2 separate regions of the Homo sapiens genome follow, and region 1 is linked to region 2. The links come from fine-mapping of genetic effects on gene expression. Tissue or cell type: testis. Region 2 holds a variant in brackets; the other region holds the start of a gene. All regions are shown on one strand. Distances are between the middles of the regions.

Region 1 (2,913 bases), 24 kb before region 2:
TAAGACCCACGAAGAGGCTTCTAATAGCCAGACCGACTGGCTGGAAAAGAGAACAAATATTTACATATACAGCTTGAGTGTGTATGTCAGCCTGAGTTTACACGGCTCCAAGCGAAGCGGATTACCCTGCGAATTCGGAGAATTTGAGTTATTCAGGCTGAGCAGGGCTAACAGGACGCCCTCCAACAAGGCCGTGGGAAGTCCTCGTCACAGCCGCCTTTGTAAAACCAGAGGGGTCTGTGTCCGCTTAGTCCGGGCGCTACCATAAGGTTCGCACTCTCCCACTACGCGTCGCGTGGTTACCGTAGAGCTCCGCGCCCTGACCTTCGCCTTCTCTTCGGCAGCCGTCCCATTTTCCAGGGTCCCTCTAGGGAAAATAGGAGCCCCAGGCTAGAGACGCACTGGTGAGGAGCAGAAGCCACGGTTCTGAGAGCAGCATCCTTTGCCAAATGCCCGCAGCTCTCGCTAAGCTTATCTTTTTCAGGGCTGCATTTGCTCAGCCCCACTGTCAAAGAGATCAAATTTGGGACCATCGAATGAGAGTCCCAGCCCTGGGATCTGCCCCGAGTATGGACCTGGCCAGTTGGCGCCGGCTCAGAGGCGCCGGATTCTACTGAGCGCTTCCCTACTTTCTTTTGGAACTTTGAGCGCAGGTAAGAAAAAGAATGGAAAAAGCGAGAACTCCCGAGGCTTCCACTGGTCTGGTCATAGCTTCCCCAACTGGGCCATGCCCGGATCTCGGGCGTTAGGCCGCGGTGATGTGTCCTCTCCCGACAGCGCGCACCGCCCTCCCGCCCGGGGCTGTGAGACCAGGTGGGGATGTCCATGGCTGCTGCGTCAGCCTAGTGGTGGCACCCTTTTCCCTGAACCTGTGCTGGGGTACCGAACAGCCGGGGCGACAGGCCACGCGGGCGCCGCACCCTGGGCGCGCCCTCCGCGCCCGGCCCGCGGCCCCGCCCCCGGCGGCGGAATCAGGAAGCGGTGACGTGAGACGGCGCTGACTGGCTGCGGGCCTCCGGGATCGCCGCCGCCAGCAAATTAAGGCGCAGGGCAGCGAGCGCCAGGGCTCACTGTCCGTAGTTCCGCGCCGCGCTCCCCACGCCAGCGTCCTAGCAGCCGCGCTCGGCTGGTGGCCACCTCAGCCTGGGACATCCCGGCTGTCCCCAGCCCCAGAGGGAGGAAGGACGCGGAGGGGATGCTCCAGGACCCCAGGACTTTGTGCAGTTGATGCTCGTTTCCGCCTTCGGGCTGTGCAGACTGTCGTCCTGCCGAGCGCCCCGGGGCGTGCGCACCCGCCGTAGTGCTCGGTGGGCCCTCTCCTCTCCGGCTGCCTTCGAAGTCTCTGCGGCTCTGGGGCTTTGCGGTGGGGAATAGAGGCCAGTGTGCAGCTCTGGAGTCGTTGGAGCTGACACTTCTGGAGTCCCTGGCCCCGCTGTGACTGCTCTCGGAAACTTTGAGCTGTGTTTCGGGTCTTTGTCTCCCTTGGGGAATCTGGACGGCAGTTCGGACGACCCCGTCCCTGGCCAGGACCGCGTGCTGGGGACCATGGAGTTCACGGCGTCCCCCAAGCCCCAACTCTCCTCTCGGGCCAACGCCTTCTCCATTGCCGCGCTCATGTCGAGCGGCGGCTCTAAGGAGAAGGAGGCGACGGAGAACACAATCAAACCCCTGGGTAAGTTGGGCTACCCGGCTGTCCGCCGAGGACTGGGGATGCTGCGCATCCGTCTGTGCCCCTGGCTGCAGGCGGCTCGCAGCAACGTCTGATGCTCAAGCCATGAGCCATACATCGCGGGTGGGAGATCTTTTTCTTTTGGGTCCAAGTTTTCTTTGGAGGCTTCAGTCTGTTGAATGCTGTGAATGTGCATCTTATATCTGGGCCCGTCGGTCTCCTAAGTTGTCTAGAATCCATATATCAGATCAGACATATGGTGTGTGTGTATGTTTGTTGGGTTAAAAACATTCATGGAAAAATAATAATAAAACCCCTTTTAAGGCTCAACAGGATTTACTGTGCATGTAACACCTGCTTGTGCGTTTGAAACGGAGACGCTAAAGGACTTCATAAGAAACCAGTTTAATTTTGGTTTTCCTCTGACTTGAATAGACAAAACAGAGCAAGCTCTTTGAAACCACTGTAAAGCAGAATAAGCCAGTTCTCCCTACACGAACCATTTTATTCACTGAAGCTCTAGACTTATCACCAAGACATCATTTTATAACTGTCGTCATTTTCAGTTGAGGTTGGCAAAAACACTAACCAGTAACCATTTCTCAAATTCCTCTACTTTTAGTTATGTTGTTTGTTTAACAACCTTTACCATTTATAGAAGACACTAGGCTAGGAGTAAAGGGAGAACAGGGATTATGTTCTTCTTAACACTAGTGAATTACATGGAAAAGAACCACCCCAAGATAAATATTTAAGAATCTCTTTACAACTGAGGGAAAAAGAAGTGTTCTCATCATTGCCTCGTGGATCCCCAGGAAATAATTGTTACACAGCCTGATCGTCTGGTATCACTACAATGTGAAAATCAGATAGCAAACTTAAGTTAATTTTTCTTTTTTAACCCTCCCCAATTTTTCCTTTCTTCTCTCTGTCCTTCCCACACTTAACATATCACATCCAAAATAATGATAACATGAAAAAAAGGAAGTGTTAGAGATCAAAAATAAGGTGTTTGGGCTTAAAGATGAGAGAAGTAAAATTCCTGTAGCTACTTGAAACCAAGGAAAAAGAAACTAGTAGATCTGTAGAAAACAGAATGTCAAAAAAAAAAAAAAATCTGTCCTCTAAGTTTTCACCCCCTTCCCCTGGTTCTTCCCACCCACCTCCCATCTAAATCTAAACCTGCCAAAGAATGGAGACAATCAATCAAACAAAATCCAATTGTTTAGAAAAATATAACTAAC
Region 2 (2,913 bases):
ACAAAGAGTGTAAGGGTAGTTGGGAATTTTGAAACAAGGAGATGTAATTTAATTCAAGGTCACATAATTTTACCAATGTAGTAGACTGCTTATATTTAATAGGAGAGACATCAGGCAGGCCTCAGGACCTCTAAGAAGACAAGTGAAATCATGTGCCTGTAACTTACCCTACTTTTTACTCAATTAAAATGGTTCATGCAGTTTGAGACCATTGAGGTGATGAGTAATGACTATATGGAGATACATATTTTGCCCAGTATGAATGTCAAAAATTGTTTTTCAAAGAGAAGATTTTTAAACCTAATTGATTATTTGTACTTCTTAAACACACTAATTCTTTTATGTGGTCCAATGTCTTAATTGACCAGGGAAGTTCCCTAGCCACCAGAACCACTGATTTTCTTATCTCTACATCTGTGTAATTTCCCTACTAACTGCTGCACATTTCTGCTGCACTCTTTGTTACCTATATAGCCACATCTCCTGACCTCAGCACTTCTGTCTAATCTATCTTGGCAACTCAAATTAAAAGATAATTACATATTTTAACAACCTCTGTCTCAGCCTTCCTAAGCCTTCCCAAATGGCAGAATGTGAGGGGGAGGTTTGATTTAGGGGAACAGACTTAGAGGCTCAGTGGGGAAGCAGAGGAGCAAGCAGGAGAGGCTGAACATTGGCCAGGAACTATGGGATTTGAGCAGAAAAGAAAGATTAAATAGTTGGAGAGCTTGACAAGTTGGTTGGAAGTGTTGAGATCAGGAAAAGAAACTTGAGCTTGTGATTGAAAATCCATTGCAAAGTCCAGAGAGAAGGCAAGTGGTAACTCAAATTAGGTGGGATACAAGTCACTGAGAATGTGGTACCAGCAGTATGGACCACAAAGGAGTCCACTTGCAAAAGGCAACTTCATTTAGGCATGACTTTATTTCCTGTTTCTGAGGGCCAGAAGCCCTGCTGCAGACCGGGTTTATGTAGTTGGGATTGTTATAAGTGAACTTTTTCTCAGTTTTATTCAGGTATTAAGTAAGAATGGAGACAATGATGCAGTGGGGTGATAGTGATCCGTTTTTATAGTGTGTGTCGTATTTTCTGTCTCAGACCATGGGGGTAC[A/G]CGTGATATATTGGGAGAAAAAAAAAGTTAGGGCTTAGAGTCTCACCTCTGCCTTTTCCTGGGTGAGTGATCCTGGAGAAGTCACCAGACTTCTGAGTCTGTACGCTCATCTAGAAAATGGAAAAAATAACCCTGCTCACCTCAGAGGTTTATTCTGAGAATCAAATAAGCTGGCATTTATGACAGCATTTTATAAATCTAAAAATGTAAAATAATTACAAGTTCTTCATCTTGTTATATGAGCATTTCATCTAACAACTTTTATCCCATGTAACTCTATGTTTCATAGTCTTAATAAACTACTCCTAGAGTAAAAATAGCCTTGTAGTTGCACATTGGTTTACAAGATAGGAGGTACTCAGTCTGACTGCTCTTTACAACGGCAGATTTGATAATGCATGTGGCCACATTTTCCACTTATTGGATAAGCATCCTGATGTGGGAGCACTCACATGTACATGAAGCTAAGTAGCTTTCAATGGTCTGAGGGCAAAGACAGCACTCTTACATGACTAGCTGAAAGTTTGCAAGATGACCTAAGTAGTGTGAAATTGGCCGAGGTTTTGGATTTCATTTCCAGATATTTAAGTCTGAATTTTTCATAAACAGCCTTTGGGGATGGGACAAATCAGATCAATTGATCTTTAGAGACCTAAAGAAATTAAATTAGTCTGGAGTCAGTTACTGCACTAAACCATCTAGTAATTGAATTGCTCCTTGTAACTGATTGAAAACAGCCCTATCCTTAACAATATAGGGAGCTTTTCTTTATAAGAGATCTGAGAGAAAAACACATATTTTTATGACATGATGACAGATATTGCACTTTTCTAACCTAATTGAATATGATGTTATAAATATGTGACCTTAATGATTTCAAGTTTCCTGTTTCAGATTTACAGCTTAATGTGTGGGACACCCAAACAAAAATGCCTTTGGGATTGGATCTGTTTGCCTGTACCTCTAAATTCACAGTTTTAATCCTTCTACAGCTACACGAGCTTTTGAGATACTCTTAAAGGTGTTTTAGTTTTCTTGCTCTAATTTTACTAGCTCCCATTGAGGTACTTGAATGTCTCACTTTGTGTGTAGCCTTACTCTTCAGGGACATCGTCTTCCTCATTTCTAAAAGAAAACCCACCTCACTGGCAAAAATAGAAAGTGTTTTCATTACTGCTTTGTAATATACCTACTGTGGTCAACCGAGAAGCAAACCAAAAGCCCAAAGGGATATCTTTGTATAATCTAATGTCTAGTTTCTCAGATTGGGGAAACAATTATTGGCTGGTTCCGTATAATAACAAGCTTTAGACAGTCATTCAGTTGGCATTTTATGTTTCTTTTCTGGGGGCATGCGGTTCACTTTGTCCAGTACACAAAGGCACAGTGTTCCTTCTGAGAAAAGAAAAATAACTGGGAGGAGTTATCTATGTTTTATTCAAAATTAAGTTTCTTTTATTAATTTTTTTTCTTTTTACTAAAAGAGTTTGTGTGCATTGCCAAAAAATCAGAAAATACGGACAAGTAAGAAAAAGCATAAAAAAGCAGTTAAACCCCATTTCCTTAGAGATGACCTCTGGCAAAACCCCATTATATATTCTTTCAGATACTTTCTTATGCACGTATGAACATTTACTTCCTTTAAAGTTTATCTGGTCAACCATATTATTTTTAATTATTTCCCCTTAATATAAATAGATATATGTCTGCAGCACACTTTTTATTGGCTTTCTAATTTTCCATTATGTGCTGTAATTTATTTGACTAATCCTATGCATTAGTTGTTTAGGTTTCTGATTTTT

Direction of the effects. Positions count from the first base shown, and alleles are read on the strand shown. Sizes are in standard deviations (SD) of each study's normalised expression.
With allele G in place of A in region 2, the expression in testis of the gene that starts at base 1,066 in region 1 is lower (moderate effect, 0.43 SD a copy in GTEx).

Evidence for each region. PIP is the estimated chance that this variant, and not a neighbour inherited with it, causes the effect. A credible set is the group of variants that fine-mapping cannot tell apart.
Region 1: it holds the start of TBX20, and the variant in region 2 is the best candidate, but not a certain one, in a credible set for the expression of TBX20 in testis (GTEx, PIP 0.88).

What each region holds. Positions count from the first base shown.
Region 1 is chr7:35,252,253-35,255,165 of GRCh38, reverse strand. It overlaps TBX20 (T-box transcription factor 20), which reads left to right and starts at 1,066. Exons shown (of 8, transcript NM_001077653.2): 1 at 1,066-1,672. The coding sequence starts at 1,546. RefSeq lists an enhancer at 1,569-2,145.
Region 2 is chr7:35,228,212-35,231,124 of GRCh38, reverse strand. The region is part of intron 6 of TBX20 (T-box transcription factor 20); the gene reads left to right. Among named protein-coding and RNA genes, the nearest start is that of TBX20, 24 kb to the left of the region's middle. RefSeq lists an enhancer at 1,357-2,223. The variant A/G (reference allele first, on the strand shown) is at 1,112.